2 separate regions of the Homo sapiens genome follow, and region 2 is linked to region 1. The links come from fine-mapping of genetic effects on gene expression. Tissue or cell type: aorta. Region 1 holds a variant in brackets; the other region holds the start of a gene. All regions are shown on one strand. Distances are between the middles of the regions.

The links. PIP is the estimated chance that this variant, and not a neighbour inherited with it, causes the effect.
Region 2: ADGRE2 starts here. The variant in region 1 is fine-mapped to the expression of ADGRE2 in aorta (GTEx, PIP above 0.99). The same link has a PIP of 0.9 or more in tibial artery.

The regions. Positions count from the first base shown.
Region 1 is chr19:14,385,443-14,390,442 of GRCh38, forward strand. ADGRE5 (adhesion G protein-coupled receptor E5) reads left to right here. Exons shown (of 20, transcript NM_078481.4): 2 at 3,008-3,058; 3 at 3,260-3,376. Among named protein-coding and RNA genes, the nearest start is that of ADGRE5, 6.5 kb to the left of the region's middle. The variant T/C (reference allele first, on the strand shown) is at 3,112.
Region 2 is chr19:14,775,802-14,780,930 of GRCh38, forward strand. It overlaps ADGRE2 (adhesion G protein-coupled receptor E2), which reads right to left and starts at 2,759. Exons shown (of 21, transcript NM_013447.4): 1 at 2,456-2,759; 2 at 925-1,126. The coding sequence starts at 955. RefSeq lists an enhancer at 236-295.

The sequences.
Region 1 (5,000 bases):
CTTTGTCTCTATCTCTCTGGTGAACAGCAAGGAGATCCCTAGGTCCCCATCTCTGAATCCCCTGGTGACCTGAGGAGGGTCCCCCAGAACATGCCTTGGGAGGGGGAACCCCCTGAGTGCTGGGAACCGCCACTCCACGTGCACCCCAACAGGCGGCTACAGCGTCTTCCTGTGGGAGGGGGGCCCGGGGGTGAAATATCACCACTGGGTTCCAGGACAGACCGCCAGGGCCAGTGGCAGTTGTGGGTGTGGTGTGTGTGCACCTGTGTCCCTGAGGAAGCGTGGAGGTCCAGGGCATCTCAGAGCCTGGGTGATCCAACACCGTCATTTTTTTTTTTTTTTTTCTGAGACGGAGTCTTGCTCTGTCACTCAGGCTGGAGTGCAGTGGCGTGATCTTGGCTTGCTGCAACTCTGCCTCCTTAGTTCAAGCGATTCTCAAGCCTCAGTCTCCCAAGTAGCTGGGATAACAGGCACCCACCACCACGCCCAGCTAATTTTTTGTATTTTCAGTAGAGAGGGGGTTTCACCATATTAGGCAGGCTGGTCTCGAACTCCCGATCTCAAGTGATCCACCCGCCTCGGCCTCCCAAAGTGCTGGGATTACAGGCATGAGCCACTGTGCCTGACCACGCCTTCATTTTTACCTAAAGAAATGAAGATGGCAGGCAGGGCCTGGCGGCTTGTGCCAGCACTTTGGGAGGCCAAGGCAGGTGGATCACGAGGTCAGGAGATCGAAACCATCCTGGCTAACATGGTGAAACCCCTTCTCTACTAAAAATATAAAAAGTTAGCCAGGCGTGGTGGTGGGCGCCAGTAGTTCCAGCTACTCTGGAGGCTGAGGCAGGAGAATGGCGTGAACCCGGGAGGTGGAGCTTGCAGTGAGCAGAGATCACACCACTGCACTTCATCCTGGGCAACAGAGCAAGACTCCATCTCAAAAAAAAAAAAAAAAAAAAAAAAAAGAGAGGCCGGGCGCGGTGGCTCACGCCTGTAATTCCAGCACTTTGGGAGGCTGAGGCGGGCGGATCATGAGGTCAGGAGATCAAGACTACCATCCTGGCTAACATGGTGAAACCTTGTCTCTACTAAAAATACAAAAAAATAAGCTGGGCGTGGTGGCGGGAGCCTGTGGTCCCAGCTACTCGAGAGGCTGAGACAGGAGAATGGTGTGAACCCGGGAGGCGGAGCTTGCAGTGAGCCAAGTTTGCACCACTGCACTCCAGCCTGGGCGACAGAGCAAGACTCCGTCTCAAAAAAAAAAAAAAAAAAAAAGAGAAATGAAGATGGCAGGCTGGGCACGGTGGCTCACGCCTGTAATCCCAGCACTTTTGGAGGCCAAGGCGGGAGGATCACTTGAGGCCGGGAGTTCAAGACCAGCCTGGCCAACATGGTGAAACCCCGTCTCTACAAAAATACAAAAAAATCAGCCGGGCTTGGTGGCGGGTGCCTGTAATCCCAGATACTCTGGAGACTGAGGCAGAGGAATTGCTTGAACCCGGGAGGTGGAGGTTGCAGTGAGCCAGGATCGTGCCATCGCACTCCAGCCTGGGCGACAGAGAGAGACTCTGTCTCAGAAAAAAAATAAAATAAATAAATAAATAAAAGAAGAAGAAATGAAGATGGCAGTAAATGCTCAGGCACACCGGACAGCAGTCATGTGGTTTACTCCCACACACACTACACTGGGGAGTGGGCGCCATCATCCCTATTCTACAGAGGGAAACTGAGGCAGAGAGGCCCACTGTCTGGGATTTGAACTGGGGATGCCTGGCTCCTGTCTGTTTTCTTAGCCACTCCCCACACACCCCAGGTCAGAAGAGCAGCAGCTGGAGCTGAGACCCCCACCAGGCTCATGGCCCTTCCCTACTCAGTTCCTGAAACTCCACCCTCAAGCCGAGCTCGGGAGGCTGAGGCGGGGAGGATCGCTTGAGGCCAGGAGTTCAAGATCAGCCTGGGCAACAGAGCAAGACTCTGTCTGTAAAATAATTTTTTGAATTATTTTTAGGCCGGCCACAGTGGCTCATGCCTGTAATCCCAGCACTTTGGGAGGCCGAGGTGGGTGGATCACGAGGTCAGGAGATCGAGACCATACTGGCTAACACAGTGAAACCCCATCTCTACTAAAAATACAAAAAATTAGCCGGGTGTGGTGGTGGACGCCTGTAGTCCCAGCTACTCGGGAGGCTGAGGCAGGAGAATGGCATGAACCCAGGAAGCGGAGCTTGCAGTGAGCTGAGATCATGCCACTGCACTCCAGCCTGGGTGACAGAGTGAGACTCCGTTTCAAAAAAAAAAATTATTTTTAATTTTTTGGCCTGGCATGATAAATTATTTTATTTTAAAAATTTTGAGTCAGGAAATGTGGCTCACGCCTGTAATCCCAGCACTTTGGGAGGCCAAGACAGGCAGATCACCTGAGGTCAGGAGTTCGAGACCAGCCTGGCCAATATGGTGAAACCCTGTCTCTAGTAAAAATACAAAAAATTAGCCGGGTGTGGTGGCAGACTCCTGTAATCCCAGCTACTCAGGAGGCTGAAGCAGGAGAATCACTTGAACCCAGGAGGTAGAGATTGCAGTGAGCCAAGATCACAGCATTGCACTTCAGCCTGGGCGACAGAGCAAGACTCTGTCTCAAAAAGAAAAAAAAATTTAGTGCACACCTGTGGTCCCAGCTACTTGGGAGGCTGAGGCAGGAGGATCTCTTGAGCCTAGGAATTGGAGGCTGCAGTGAGATATGATTGCACCACTGCACTCCAGCCTGGGTGACCAAGCAGGAGCCTGTGTCAAAAAAAAAACAAAAACAAAAAAACCCGCCCCTATGGGAACAGGGTGACAGACTCTTTGGCTTTGAGCATCTGAGTGGGACATGACATCTGCTCACTCTGAACGACCGTCAGGATCTGAGCCTGAGAGGGGTCAGCATCCTCCTCCCACAAAGTGCATCACCCTTACGCCTCCTTTCCCACCCTGGGATCCCCTCTGACCCCCTTTCCTTTCTCTGTTGCAGCATTCTGTGTCTGGCTGACTCTGCCGGGAGCTGAAACCCAGGACTCCAGGGGTGAGTCTGCTGGGAAGCAGAAAGCACAGTCCACAGCCAGAGCCTGGGGAGGG[T/C]CCTGGACCCCCGCCCAGCCCCCTTCAGCCCAGGGAAAGAGAGGGCTCGCGCACGAGAAACTCAGCGCCCTGCCCCATCTCCCCCAGTGCCCCCTTTTTGTGTATTCCCTTACCCCTCACCTTCTGACCGTGCTCCCTGCTCTTGCAGGCTGTGCCCGGTGGTGCCCTCAGAACTCCTCGTGTGTCAATGCCACCGCCTGTCGCTGCAATCCAGGGTTCAGCTCTTTTTCTGAGATCATCACCACCCCGACGGAGACTTGTGACGGTACAGAGGCTTGAGGGCAGCGCAGGGGACATCCGCGATTATGAGGCATTGCCCAGCCAGTGGGGGACAGAGGTTGTTGTGAGGGGCCACAGCCTTACCTTCCAGACTATCATCATGGCCAGAGAAAAGAAAAAGAGGGCAGGCGTGGTGGCTCACGCCTGTAATCCCAGCACTTTGGGAGGCTGAGGCGGGCAGATCGTTTGAGGCCAGGAGTACTCAGAAGACTGAGGGGAGAGGATTATTTGAGCCCAAGAGTTTGAGGCTGCAGTGAGCTATGATTGCACCACTGCACTCTAGCCTGGGCAACAGAATGAGATCGTGTCTCAGGGAGAGGGAGAGGAAGGGGAAGAGGGAGAGGGGGAGAGGAAGGGGAAGAGGGAGAGGGGTAGGGGGAGGGAGAAGGGGAGGGGAAGGGGGAAAGGGAGGGGGATGGGGAGGGAGAGGGGGAGGGGAAGGGGGAAGGGGAGGGGAAGGGGAGGGGAAGGGGGAAGGGGAGGGGGATGGGGGAGGGAGGGGGGAAGGGGAGGGGAAGGGGAGGGGGATGAGGAGGGAGACGGGGAAGGGGAGGGGGAGGCAGAGGGAGAGGAAAGGAGGCAGGAAGGAAGGAAGGGAGGAAGGGAGGGAGAGAGATAGGCCCGGCATGGTGGGTCATGCCTGTAATCCCAGCACTTCAGGAGGCCGAGGTGGACAGATCACTTGAGGTTGGGAATTCGAGACTAGCCTGGCCAACATGGTGAAACCTCCTCTCTATACTAAAAACACAAAAAATTAGCCGGGGGTGGTGGTGGTCACCTGTAATCCCAGCTACTCGGGAGGCTGAGGCAGGAGAATCGCTTAAACCTGGGAGGTGAATGTTGCAGTGAGCCGAGATTGCGCCACTGCACTCTGGCCTGGGCGACCAGAGCAAGACTTTGTCTCAAAAAAAAAAAAGAGAGAGACAGAGAAGGAGAGAAAGAGAAAGAAAAGTAGGCCCGGCATGGTGGCTTACGCCTGTAATCCCAGCAGTTTGGGAGGCCAAGGCGGGCGGATCACCTGAGGTTGGGAGTTCGAGACCAGCCTGACCAACATGGAGAAACCTCATCTCTACTAAAAATACAAAATTAACCGGGTGTGGTGGCCCATGAGCACATGCTTGTAATCCCAGCTACTCCGGGGGCTGAGGCAGGAGAATCGCTTGAACCCGGGAGGCGGAAGTTGCAGTGAGCCAAGACCGTGCCATTGCACTCCAGCCTGGGCAACAAGAGTGAAACTCTGTCTCAAAAAAAAAGAGAAGAAAAGAACAAGAGAGAGAGGGAGGGAGGGAGGGAAAGAAGAGGGAGGGAGGGAAGGAGGGAGGAAGGAAGGAAGGAAGGAAATAAGGGAAGAATATGAAGGGGGAGAAGTAAGAAGTGAATAGGCATGGCTTCCTGGAGAGAGAGAAGCTGGGTGCTCAGGAATCTGGAGTCTGTGCCTCAGTTTACCCTTAAGACTGGGGAGGGGGTACATTCTGGCTATGAGGTTTTTTTTTCCTTTTTTTTTTTTTTGAGACAGAGTCTCACTCTGTCACCCAGGCTGGAGTGCAGTGACCCGATCTCGGCTCACTGCAACCTCCACCTCCTAGGTTCAAGCGATCCTCCTGACTCAG
Region 2 (5,129 bases), 390 kb after region 1:
CAAGCTGAGATCGTGCCACTGCACTCCAGCCTGGGCGACAGAGCAAGGCTCCGCCTCAGAAAAAAAAAAAAAAAAATGATGGCGCTGGATCCCCCAGGCTCTAAGATGCCCTGGAACCGCATGCTTCCTCAGGGACACAGGTGCACACACACCACAACCGCCGCCAGCCCTGGCGGCCCATCCTGAAACCCAGTGGTGATATTTCACCCCGGGCGCCCCTCCCACAGGAAAACGCTGTGGCCGCCTGTTGGGGTGCATGTGGCGCTGCGGTTCCCAGCACTCAGGAAGTTCCCCTTTCCAAGGCATGTCCTGGGGGACCCTCCTCAGGTCACCAGGGGCTTTAGAGATGGGGACCTAGGGATCTCCTTGTTGTTCACCAGAGAGAGAGACAAAGAGGCAGAGGTAGAGAGAAAACGGAGATTAGGGAGATAGAGAGACTGAAAGAGAGACAGAAGGAGAAAGACAGAGAGAGAGAGAGAAAGAAGGGAGAAGCTGGGGGTACCCTGCAGTGGAGAAGTCCTGGCCTCTATTTTCCCCGCCCCCCGCCCATGTCTTTCTATGCGCTATATTAAGAGCAGTGGCTCTGGGGTCCTAGCACTCACTTTTTGCCCCTTTCCTTCCCCCGTGCCTCAGTTTCCCCTCTTATGGAGCAGATGCCAAACTGGCTCCAGTAGAAAGCTTGAGGATCCCTCCGGGCAGGGTAGCAGGCTCCGAGAGCACCCTGGAGTTCCTGCCGGGGTGTGGGGGTGCCCAAGCACCACCAGCCCCTCTCGCCGTGTGCCCGTGAGTGCCTGCTTGACCATGTGGCTTTCTCCATCGCCGGCCCCACAGACACCAGCGGCGCCTCCCGTTTCTCAGACGCATCCAAGGGGTCCCGCTGGAGCTTCCTCGCTACCACCCCCAGCGGGGCCCCAAAGTACTTACCGAGAAAGACGAGAAAGACGCGGCCTCCCATGGTTCCAGCTGAGCTGCCGGCAGGAGCAGCAGGGGAAAGAGTGAGTGGGACAGGGCTGTCCCGTCTCCGCAGGCTGGGCAGCTGTGCGGGCTGTCCCGAGGCCAGGACTTTATAAAGGAGGGGGGGCGGACAGCCGCTGGCCCAGGGCCCTCCCCGGAACTGGCGGTGCAGCTGGAAGCCAGCAGGAAAGCACAATAAAAACACAGAACCAGGGGCGCTGCACACACACACACACACACACACACACACACACACACACGTGTACTCGCTCAGCAAGAATGAAGTGCAACCTGCTTTAAAAATCCCTCTGCTGGAGTTTCCACCATGTGGCTCTGACCAACCCTCTGGCCTCTGTGTGTTCCAGGCTGGCTGCTGTGCAGGGGAAGGTGTGGCAGCCGGGCGGGGCGGTCTCGCCTGGGGCCACTTGGCTCTTCCCTGGGCAGGCACGCAGGGGCCTTGTCAGAAATAGCTCTGGGCTCCCACTTTGGTAGGGCTCACCCTGTGCCCAGAGCTTTGGCATGCCAGAGTTGGCAGAGCCTGCGTCCCAGCTGGCAGTATCTTCCCCTGCTGTTTTCCAGATGAGGAAACTGAGGCCAGGTACAGAGGCTCACGCCTGTGATCCCAGCACTCTGGGAGGGCGAGGCAGGAGGATCGCTTGAGCTCAGGAGTTTGAGACCAGCCTGGGCAACATGGCGAAGCTCGGTTTCTTTCTTTCTTTTTAAATTAATTAATTAATTAATTAATTAAATTTTTTAGACTTTAAGTTCTAGGGTACATGTGCACAACGAGCAGGTTTGATACATAGGCATACATGTGCCATGTTGGCTTGCTGCACCTATCAACTCGTCATTTACATTAGGTATTTCTCCTAATGCAATCCCTCCCCCAGGCCCCCACCCCCCGACAGGCCCCAGTGTGTGATGTTTCCCGCCCTGTGTCCAGGTGTTCTCATTGCTCAGTTCCCACCTATGAGTGAGAACATGTGGTGTTTGGTTTTCTGTTTCTGTGTTAGTTTGCTGAGAATGATGGTTTTCAGCTTCATCTGTGTCCCTGCAAAGGACATGAACTCATCCTTTTTTATAGCTGCATAGTATTCCCTGGTGTATATGTGCCACACTTTCTTAATCCAGTCTATCATTGATGGACATTTGGGTTGATTCCAGGTCTTTGCTATTGTGAATAGTACCGCAATAAACATACATGTGCATATGTCTTTATAGTAGCATGATTTATAATCCTTTGGGTATATACCCAGCAATGGGATCGCTGAGTCAAATGGTATTTCTAGTTCTGGATCCTTGAGAAATCACCACACTATCTTCCACAATGGTTGAACTAATTTACATTCCCACCAACAGTGTAAAAGCGTTCCTATTTCTCCACACCTGTGATCCCAGCACTCTGGGAGGCCGAGGCAGGAGGATCGCTTGAGCTCAGGAGTTTGAGACCAGCCTGGGCAACATGGCAAAGCTCTGTTTCTTCAAAAAGAAAAAAAATTACCTGGGCTTGGTGGCAGACGTCTGTGGTCCCAGCTGCTACTACTCAGGAGGCTGAGGCAGGAAGAATCACCCGAGCTGGGGAGTTTGAGGCTGCGGTGAGCTAAGATGGTGCCACTGCACTCCAGCTTGGGTGATAGAGTGAGACCCTGTGTCAAAAACAAAAAGAAAGAAAGAAAACTGAGGCATTACAGTGTCCACATAAAAGCCCAGGGAGGGAGAAGGGGCCCTCTTCCGATGCCAGGCAGGTGCCAAGAAGAGAAGCTTCACCGCACAGAGCAGACCCCCCGGATCTTTCTGGTCTTTCTAAGCCAGTTTCCTCCTGTGGGAAACTTATATTTCAGAGGCCCCTGGGCACTTCGTTAATCAACAGAGAATCATGTGATAGGAGGGTTCTTTCCTTTCTGGATAAATCATATGATTAGCTTGTCTCTTGAGGTACGTAATCATTTTTTAAAACGCTATATATATTTTTAAGAGATCTTACTCTGTCACCCAGGCTGGAGTGCAGGGTCACCATCACAGCTCACTGCAGCCTCAAACTTCAGGGCTCAAGGGATCCTCCTGCCTCAGCCTCCTGAGGAGCTGGGACTACAGCTGTGCACCATCACGTCTGGCTAGTTTTCTCCTTAAGTGTTTTTTTTTTTTGTAGAGACGAGATCTCGCTATCCTGCCAAGAAAATGCTATTATTTATGGAGCACTTAATTTGTACCAGGTCTGGTCCTAAGTGCTTTTTTTTTTTAATCTATATTAACTCATTTACTCCTTAAAACATCTGCAATGATGTTGTCATTCCCATTTGACAGAGGAGGAAACTGAGGCACAAGTGACTCACCCAGCTGAGACTCAGATCCACAGGCCGGCAGCCCAGCCCTGGAGTCCCTGCGATGAGCCCAGGGGAAAGTCTCCACTGGGCACTAACATGTCTTTAGCGCCTCCGTGACCCTGAGGCTTAGCAGGTGTCTGTATCCAGCCAGAATTCAAGGACTTGGTTTTGTGTTCCTCATATTTATATTTATTTTTAGGTTTCCCTACTATCTGGGGCAATGAGGAGGGTTTTTCAGTGAGGATGCCGAAATCAAGTCTCCTTGTTACATGAGTAAATTCAAGATGCAGAAGTGATGAATGCTAAGGAAAATATAGTTCAGTTGTTCAAAGGGGGAGATTGCAGCGATGGAGAAAAAAGTCACTAATGACTGAAGTCAGAGAACTATTGTCCTGGGAATAATCAAACATCCACAGTCCTAGAATTTACCCCTTCCTGTCCCGGGCTCCTGTGGGGGTGGCCTGGGCTGTGGGGGAGGGGAGTGAACACCAGCAGAAGCTGGAAGGAGAGAGGGCCAGACCAGGTCTGGAGGGATTTTGCCTTTTTTTTCTCAGAAAGCCAGAAACTCCAGCTAGAACCCCAGGGCTCAACGTCCCTTCTCTGCAGATCAGACGGGCAGGTCAGACAGCTGGCGTCTGCAGAATCTCAGGGAGGTAGTGGCACTTCCTGATGCCAGGGATTGTCCCTACACCCCTTCATGGTGATCATCGACTCTTCTTAATTTAATTTTATTTTACTGTATTTTAGAGACAGACTCTGGTGTTGCCCAGGTTGGAGTACAGTGGCGCCATCTCGACTCACTGCAACCTCCGCCTCCCGGGTTCAAGCGATTCTCCTGCCTCAGCCTCCAGAGTAGCTCGGACTACAGGTGCCCACCACCACACCTGGCTAATTTTTGTATTTTTATTTTATTTTATTTATTTGTTCATTCATTTATTTATTTTGAGACAGAGTCTCGCTCTGTCACCCAGGCTGGAGTGTGGTGATGTGATCTCAGCTCACAGCAACCTCTGCCTCCTGGGTTCAAGAGATTCTCCTGCCTCAGCCTCCCAAGTATCTGGAATTACAGGTGCAAGCCACCACGCCTGGCTAATTTTTGTATTTCTAGCAGAGATGGAGTTTCGCTATGTTGGTCAGGCTGGTCTCGAACTTCTGGCCTCAAGTGATCTGCCTGCCTTGGCATCCCAAAAGTGCTGGGATTACAGGCGTGAACCACAATGCCCGGCCTGAAACATTCTTTTTAAATTTTTATTTTATTATTATTATTATTATTTATTATTACTTTTTTCTGAGACGAAGTCTTGCTCTGTCACCCAAGCCGGAGTGCAGTGGTGCTATCTCGTCTCACTGCAATCTCTGCCTCCCGGGTTCAAGCAATTCTCCTGCCTCAGCCTCCCGAGTAGCTGGGATTATAGGCACCTGCCATCGCATCTAGATAATTTTTGTATTTTTAGTGGAGACAGGGTTTCACCATGTTGGCCAGGCTGGTCTCGAACTCCTGTCCTCAAATGATCCACGCGCCTCAGCCTCCCAAAGCGTTGGGATTACAGGCGTGAGTCACCATTCCTGGCGGCTTTCTTGAGTCTCTCCAATACTTCTCACCATCTCCCTTCTTCCCTAGCAACCATCTGCCCTCGAGCCGCATTAGGCTGTCAGCCCCCTGAGTGACTTTTGTCTTTTTCTCTGCAGAGCACCAGCACAGAGCCTGTGCTGAGTGGGGCCCTATATGGTAAACCATGCAAATTAGTAGTACTCCTGCCACTCCACTCCGCTGCCGCCCAGCTAAAGGAAGCCTCCTTCAGCCTCGCTGATCTGGTCCCTGCCGGGGTGTCTGCCTATGTTTCTCCGCCT